Regions from separate parts of the Homo sapiens genome. Here region 1 is linked to region 2. The links come from fine-mapping of genetic effects on gene expression. A gene starts in region 2. The other region holds a variant in brackets. All regions are shown on one strand. Distances are from middle to middle.

What was found. PIP is the estimated chance that this variant, and not a neighbour inherited with it, causes the effect.
Region 1: its variant is the best candidate, but not a certain one, in a credible set for the expression of TMEM164 in subcutaneous fat (GTEx, PIP 0.80).

What each region holds. Positions count from the first base shown.
Region 1 is chrX:110,123,739-110,128,126 of GRCh38, reverse strand. The region is part of intron 4 of TMEM164 (transmembrane protein 164); the gene reads right to left. Among named protein-coding and RNA genes, the nearest start is that of MIR3978, 44 kb to the right of the region's middle. The variant G/T (reference allele first, on the strand shown) is at 1,777.
Region 2 is chrX:110,000,762-110,005,149 of GRCh38, reverse strand. It overlaps TMEM164 (transmembrane protein 164), which reads right to left and starts at 2,036. Exons shown (of 7, transcript NM_032227.4): 1 at 1,972-2,036; 2 at 986-1,649. The coding sequence starts at 1,375. RefSeq lists an enhancer at 1,174-1,829 and a silencer at 1,932-2,791.

The sequences.
Region 1 (4,388 bases), 120 kb before region 2:
TTTGGTCACCAGAGTATTCTTCAAATTAGTTGAGACTTATAGGTCTTAGGTTCTAAAGAAAAATAAGTACTTTTATTACTTAGGGGTTATCTGAATTTTTGCATCCATGCCAGTCTGAATTCTTAAGACCATAATGGGTTTTAGGAACATACGTTTAGTGGACCAATGGGTAACTTGTGCATGCAGGGCCCAGCCCATGCATACCTGGCTGCTTTTATAAGGACCATGAGTGCACCTAGCATGCTCTATCATACGCAGGGTCCATGGCCCTCTTTCAATGGCAGCTTGCTGATACAGGACACATATTTGTGCTGTGGTTATTTTAGTTATTGGAAGGAGGTGATGGGAATCCTGTCTCTCCCCTGATCAGAGAAGGTGGAGCTCCCCCAATTCTGGCTAGAGTGTGGGGACCCTAGCTCTTCCTCTACCTGGACTACTTGCTGTTCCTTTCCCCCTCCTACACTGTGGGGCCGAGTTAGTGAAATTAAAACATGTCTGTATATCTCAACTAAGGGCCCACTCAGTTAAAGGAAAAAGAATCTTCTCTCACTTCCATCTTTGGAAGCAGGAGTTGAGTTGTGGTTGTTTTGTTTTGTTTTGTTTTGTTTTGTTTGAGACGGAGTTTTGCTCTTGTTGCCCAGGCTGGAGTGCAATGGTGCGATCTTGGCTCACCACAACCTCCGCCTCCCAGGTTCAAGAGATTCTCCTGCCTCAGCCTCCCGAGTAGCTGGGATTACAGGCATGAGCCACCATACTCGGCTAATTTTTGTATTTTTAGTACAGACGGGGTTTCTCCATGTTGGTCAGGCTGGTCTCGAACTGCCAACCTCAGGTGATCTGCCCGCCTCAGCCTCTCAAAGTGCTGGGATTACAGGCATGAGCCACCACACCCGGCCAGGAGTGACCCTTTAACCACACTAAAACACCTTGCTAGGACGAGACTCTGGATGGTACTTCCTCAGGACAGCTCTCACCATGCATCTGCCAACAGCACCCCCTGGTCCCTGCTCCATATGGAGAGCTGCCATTCCCTTGCTCAAAACTGGAAACAGAAGGCACCTTTGGCCCAAGTTACAGTTGACCTCTGGCCTAGTTTGGAGACCAAGACACAGTTATGTACAGTGCATGTGGCATAAGGCACAAATGGGAGTTGCTCAATTCTTTCAGCACCACCTAGTTGACCTACAAATTGACCTTCTCTTCAATCAGTCATATATTGAACACCCACTCCATGAAGAACCTTATGTTCTTCCCACCAACACCACACACACACACACACACACACACACACACACACACACACACACACACACACAGGAGTGGCCCAGCCAGGAAATAAACCTAGAAAATAGATTTATTTTCTAGAAAATCCCTGAACCCATCCTCAACAACTACACTAAGGTGAGATTTGCTGGTTGCCAAGTCCCATCCACATGTAAGGAATTCTTATTAGAAAAGGTTGAAAAGATAGGAAACACATGTAAAATCTAAACTATAAACTATAAGGGCTAAAAGACAGGACAGAAGCAGTGTCCCAGGAGATCGCTAAAGCCCTCTGCATGGATTCCTATGTTTCCATTGTTTGTGCTCCACTGTGGGCCTCGAGAAAATAGACGTGGAGAGCAGGCATTGATATCCCCTTAGAAAAGAATCCTGAAAGGCAGTAGGCTATGGATAAGTCTCTTTCCCAGCCAAAGCAAGCACAAACTCTCCAAATCACTGCTAAAGCCAACAGTCTGTAACTGTCCCAGAGCAGGAGATGCTGTGAGTCCAGAG[G/T]TGGGTGTTCCTCCTGCTTTGAGACTTACTGCCTTTGGTGGCAGGGAGAGATGTGCTCTGGATCAGGAGGAGAGGGGTGGCAGGATTCCCTCGTCCTTCTGTCAGCCCTATCTGTCCCCAGAGGGCAGCTATAGGATGACTCCCAGAGGGCACCTGTGAGCTGGGCCAGCAGCAGAGACGAACCAGGCAGCTTCTGGAAGATTCGTTCTCATCTCGTCCTCTCCATCCACCAACCAAATAGCCATTTCTAAGTTATTGCCATCTTAGAAAAACACACTCCTGGTCTAGATGAGCATGTTCAGCTTCACTGGAAGCCCCCCGCCCTGCCATTTGAGCCAACATAATTTACAATTCCCAGAAATGCCTGAGAAGCAGTGTATGCGCTTCTGCTGCCAAGCCTGGCCGGTTTTACAGATTTTCATTTAGCAGGTGTCTGTTGCTAAATCAGTAGCAGCTGCTAATTGCTTTGCCTCTCAAACCCTCAGACAGAATGAAACATCTGGTGTTCTCTCACTTCAGGTTAAAATCAGGTACCTTATCACGTCTCCTTTGAGTTCCATTTTTATTAAAAAGCTTTCAGCTGATGCCTGGAACTGGCAGCAGAGAGCAAGACCATTCCTGAACAATGGGAATGTTTCTAACACGATGTAGTGAGCCTGCCTCATGCCTCCAAACTCCGTGCACAGAAACAGAGTCACTCAGACCATTCCCCACAAGGTGGGGCTTTAGGCCCATGAGCCCAGGGAACCTGAGACTTCATCTCCTGAGCCAGGACTCTGGGGGCCCCCAGCCCTTTGATTGCAGTGCCCCTTCTTGCCCAGAATACTTTCTAGTATTTGCAACCCCCACCCGAGCCAGTTCTCCTCTCTCCTCCAGGGGAACTGCAGGGGGAAAAAACTACATACAGTGGAGGAAAATTACCAGGACGCCATCATCTGCAGCTCCACTTCCCAGTTCATACCGGTGCTCTCTTTTCAGCCACTTTGAAAGTTTTTTTGTTTTGTTTTTGTCGTTATTCCTCCCCGCAACAATCATTTCGCTGGGCTCCAAATCTGCCTCTTGATTCTAAGTCAAAGCCATTCTCAAAAGCACCTTAATAGCAACTCAAATATTTCCTATTATTATTAATAAATAATCTTAGCTAACCTTTATTGAGCATTTACTACTTTGTATCAGGCATTGTGGTAAGCACTTTACATGCATTACCTTATTAAAGATTCAGGAATTGTTATGACCGTCCTCATTTTACAATGTAAAACAGGCTCTGAGACAGGCTATTGATGCTGTAGAAGGAAGACTGGAACAGTGATTTGGCTAGATTAAAAGCCTGGGCTCTGCTGACTAGGTATCTTTGATGATTTTAAGGAATTATTGCTAGTTATTATAGGTATGATAATGGTATTGTAATGTTTATTTTTTACTGTGTCCTTACATTTCAGACATGCATAATGAAATACTTACAGTTAAAATTACATGAGATTTTCTTCCAAATAATCCAGGGATAGGTGTTTGTGTTGGGGGTGGAATGGATTTGTGGTGGAGTGAGGTGTATTGTTAAAAAGAAAAAGATGGGCTATGTGGTGACAATCATTGAAACTGGGTGACAGATGCATTAGGGAACATTTTTTCTACTTTTGTGTATGCTTTCAATTTTCTACAATATAAAATTATATACATACACTCCTGTTCTTATCCACTACATCATAGGACCTCCTAGCTTACGAAGTTTTTCCACCCCAAACTCCTTTCCTGCGTTAGCTCCTCTGGCCGGATCCTACCACCAAAGCTTCCTCAACTGGCACCCATGCAGTACCGGGACCCAGAAGTGATCACTCTTTCCTTGGACTTTCTAAAGAAACCCTCAGTTTGCCCTAAAGTCTCAGTTCACTCCACTCAAGGTCCTAGGCGTGTGGGACCTAAGGGGAGGTTGGCAGGCCACCTGTTGAGGTAAGAGATGGGCCTCAGGAGGAGCTCTGCCTACCCCCCGATTCTTTTTATGCAATGGAAAACTGAATTCATCTTGCCAGTTGGCACCCAACAAAGGATTATTTCATTGAATCCTCATAATAACTATGATGTACCTTTCTCCCTCCCTCCCTGCTTCCCTCTTTCCGTCCAGCCAGCCTGCCTTCCTGCCTTCCTGCCTGCCTGCCTGCCTGCCTGCCTTCCTGCCTTCCTTCCTTCCTTCCTTCCTTCCTTCCTTCCTTCCTTCCTTCCTTCCTTCCTTCCATTTGTTATTACAGGTTCTCACTCTGTCACCCACGCTGGAGTGTATGGCATGATCATGGCTCATGGTAACCTTGAACTGTTAGGCTCAAGTGATCCTCCTGCCTCAGCCTCCCAAGTAGGTGAGACTACAGACACATACCGCCACGCCTGGCTAATTTTTTAAAAAAAATTTTGGTAGAGACCGGTCTCACTATGTTGGCCAGTCTGGTCTCAAATTCCTGGGCTCAAGTGACCCTCCCACATCGGCCTTCTGACTAGCTGGGACTACAGGCACATGCCACCATGGCTGGCTAATTATTTTATTTTTTGTACAGACAGGGTCTCACTTTGTTGCCCAGGCTGGTCTCAACACTTCGGCTCAAGTGATCCTTCCTCCTGAGCCT
Region 2 (4,388 bases):
AAAACTGCCCCTGAATAAAACACACCCGGTTTTCCACAGCCTGAAATCTAAAAAAGACTGATTGCTCTCCCAGTCTCCTCTTCCTCCTCCTCCATGATTTTATAGCTTTAGAACATCTCTCCACACAGGCTGAATACAGACAGTCTCACTCTTGGTCCTCACCCAGATTATTTTTATGTATCTGGCAACTTGCCTTTTCAATCCCATTTGTTTTCCTTAGCACCGCTAATGGGTGGAAGTCGATGAGGTAAAGAAATCAGCTTCCTAAGCACCCTTGGACTATGACCATAGGAGACAGAATGACAGTAATAGGATGGAGAGGTTTGCAAAAAAAGAAATACCCTCTCACCATAGTGATCACCAGCCCAAAGTACACATGTCAGCCTGGGGACCTGCTTCAGAACTCATTTAGTAGGAGCTTGGTGCTGCTCCAATGCCTCAAAATGCAAAGGCAGACCTCACTCTAAGAGCATACACTCCCAAATGAAAGAGTCATTAAGAGAAACCTGTAAAAGTATTTCCCCAAAGTACCACAGTGTAGATGAGAAAGTTTATGCGACCACCTCCAGGAAAGAGTGTCACCAGGCCCCTGGGAAATTAACTACCACAGAAGGCAAGGGAGCTGGGTCATGGTCCACTGATGTGATTCAGAAAGGGCACCTGGCTGGGGCTGGAATTCCTGCTTGTGAAAGCCCAGGGCACGGCAGGGTTGGGCTGGGCTGGAAGGGAGGGGCAGCCAGGGTGAGTGCCAGTCGTTCCTAGGGTTCAGGCACAAGGTTCCTCACCTCCACTGTGGGGCTGACGCACTGTGCAAAGGTGAAAGAAAGCCAAACCTGAAATCGGCACAAAGGCAGCCACTCGTTGGAAAATCATTTTTAAAGGTCCCCCTGCCCGCCGGGATGAGGTGCTGTACACTATGGAGTGTCCTGAGCACATAAATGACTCTTATCACTTAGGATGCCCAGGAAAAAGTCAACAGACTCACATGCATCATGGTGACCAGGTGACAGGGGTTGAGCAGGTAGATGACGGTCTTGGTGGCGAACTTAAAGCCCACCTCCACCCCGAAGGTCAGGCACAGGGCTACTAAGAGCAGATTCTTGCTCAGGCTCTCCTTGCCTTCCTCTGGCCGCTGGGTCACCTGCTCTGGCTGGCTGCCAGGGCTACCCCTACCGTCCTCCTTCGTCTGCCTCAGGATGTGCCGCAGGGCCACCAGGATCTCCAACAGAGCCAGGGTCAGGACCACCACACTTTCCAGCAGCCGCTGCTGCCAAGAGAGGAAGGCAGCACAGTCGGGGCCCCCATTGCCTGCAAAACTGGGGTCCACGCCCCCATAGAGCCAGTCCAGGAGACTCTGGTAGCTATACCGGGACATGATGCAGTGGTTCCCCTTGACCACAGTACAGGAAGCAAGAGTGAGATGGAACACAAGCCCAGAGGGTTGCCCGGGTGGTGGACCATGTAAGGCGGGCACACCCCCACAACCCCCCTCCAGACACCAGGGCACCGAGAGTAGGGGAGGGGAAGCTACACGCAAGGCCCGGGGTAAAGTGCTGGCTCTAACTTGTCCCCACGGCTGTCTGGGGGAGCCCCCCGCGCTTCTCCAGTGGCCACCAACGAGGCAGGGTTGAAAGGAGCCGTTGGCCAATCTAAAAGGAAGGAGAGGAAAAAAAAAAAAAAGAGGTCTCAAAGAGGCAATTGCACCGGGAATTAGGAAGCGGGAGGGGTAACTAGCGAGGGAAGAAAACGGGAACGGGGCAGTGGCGAAGCAAGCAGGGGTCAGGGGAAGCCGGAGGCCGAAAGGGTCAGGGCGGGGGCCAAGGAGACCCGGCAGTGCTGCGGCAGCGAACCGGGAGCCAAAAGGGGTCAGAGCTAGGGGACACGCGGAGGCAAGGAGAGGAGCTAGCGGGGCCGAGCAGGCGGGGAGGGCGACGGGGATGGCAGGGACGCCGGACTCCTCGTCTCACGCACTCGCCACAGAGGGATCTCTTACTCCTGCAACCGCGTGGCCGTCTCTGCCCCCAGCTAGCAACTTCGCCGCCGACGGGCCCCTCCAGCCAATTTAGAGCCGTCCTTGTCCAGCCTCCCGCCCCCGGGTACACCCCCGAACCCCCAGCTCCACCCTCCGGCCCTAGACGCCCGCCCTCCGGGCAGCACCACCCCCAGCCCGCGGCCCGCCCGGGACCTGCCCCCCTCGCGCAGGCAGCGGAGGGAGGAAGCCAGAGGGAAGGCGGGAGGCCGGGCCAGCCGGGGGCTGGACTAAAGCCGGCCCCTGGACTAAAGCCGGCCCCCCTCCCTCCTCCCCGGCGCCGCAACCTCCCGCGCCTCCCGCCCAGCCCCGGGGACCGGCCGCCGCGCCCCTCGGGGCTTCACTCACCGGCAGCTCGGCCCGCGGCCCCGGATCGGGCTACTGCTCCGCTCCCGCGCTCTCCGCGCCGGGCGCTCGGTTCCCCTGGCGGCCGCCGCCGCGGCGCACGGCTCCTCCTCCCCGTCTTCCTCCCCCTGCAGCAGCCGCGCTCGCTTCCTCCTTCTTCCCCTCCCTCTCTCCTCCCCCTCCCCGCTGCCACCGCCACTGCCTCCCTCCTCCCGTCCAGTTCAGCTCTCGCCCCACCACACGCCCTCGGGCCACGACTACTCCTCCTCGCCTCCTTCCCTTTTCTGCCTCTGGCACTCCCCTCACCCGTCCACCATTCACACCTCCCACCCTCCGCGGCTTCGGCTCTCCCTCCTCCTCCTCCCTCCTCCTCCCTCCTCCGGCTCAGGCTCCGCCTCCTTCCGCCTCCTCCCTGGCCTGCCTCGTCTTCTGCACTCGGAGCCTGCACGCGTGCACAGCCACCCTCCTTCACAACCGTGTACAGAATTCGCCCCCTCGGTGAAGCCCTGTTGACTGGCTCCGCCTCCCGCGACCTGGTTCTCCAGGGCACTTCTTTCTATACTGCACACATAGTAGGCACTTAGCTGGCCCGCACTAACTTCTTGTGGGGGAATAAGCCTTTCTAGTAATGAGCAGCTTGGCTTCGGGGTGTGTGCTGGGTATGGCCGGCTCCTCTTCGCGATTCCTCCTTTCTGCCACGACTCATGCAAGGCCAGAAAGGCATCTTCTCTCCCCTTTCTAGCCACAGCCCCACTCCACACTTCAGTGCCTAGGACAGGAGCTTCATTTCCCTGCTCCTCCCCCTCCTGCTCTGATCCACTATTTTCTCTCTACCTCTTGCCACACAGACCACCCCTGCCACACCCTCTCCCTCTCCCACTTCTCTCCTTTCTCCTGACAGGCCTTCAATGGTAGGCCAGTGGGAGGAAGGGAGGCTTCCCGTGACCTCTTTCCCTCCCCCTCTTCCCCCCTTCCCCCTCCCCAGAGCAGTTGCTTCCTAACCTATGCGTGGAAAAGCCAGCCAGGACTATATGAGTGTGGAGGAGCAGCACTAAGCCCAAAACCTGGATAAGGGCAACTGACGGAAATAAAATCCCCTCTTCCTACCTGCTGCTTTTTACCGATCGGCTATTTGCTTTTCTTGAGACAAGGGTCAGTAAAAGGACCTTCTCAGGACCTTCCTCATGTTTATTTAATATTTATTGAAGACTCACGATGAGTTAGAAGAATATCCAGAAAAACACAGTTAGGCACCTTGCCTAGGAAACACTTTTGGATGTTGGCTGCAAGCCAGGCTCAAAACATAAAATGCAATCTACTGTATTATCAGGCCATCGCCCTCCCGTTTTTTCCAAGTCTGGTTTTCCGAACAAGTACAGCCAGGTAGCCTTGTCTGACTCCAAGTTTTGTACAACATCTACCATAGGCCTGATGTTCTCCAAGTGTCAGAGGCGTTAGAACCAGAGCGACTCCATCTTGAACAGGGCCTGGATAAAATGACGCTGAGACCTACTGAGCTGCATTCCCAAAAAGTTAGGCATTCCAAGTCACGGGATGAGATAGGAGGTCGGCACAAGATTATAGGTCACAAAGACCTTGCTGATAAAACAGGATGCAGTAAAGAAGCCGGCCAAACCCCACTAAAACCAAAAAGGTGATGACAGTTACCTCTGGTCGTCCCCACTGCTCATTATATGCAAATTATAACGCATTAGCATGCTAAAAGTCACTCCCACCAGCGTCCAGAAGTTACCCTATATGGTCTGAAAGGGGGAGGAACCCTCAGTTCTGAGAATTGCCCACCCCTTTCCCAGAAAACTCATGAATAATCCACCCCTTGTTTAGCATATAATCAAGAAATAACCATAAGAATTATCAGTTGAGCAGCCCAAGCTGCTACTCTGCCTATGGAGTAGCCATTCTTTATTCCTTTACTTTCTTAATAGACTTGCTTTGACTTTACTCCAAATTCTTTCTTGCCCCGAATTCTTGCTAGAGGTCCAAGAACCCTCTC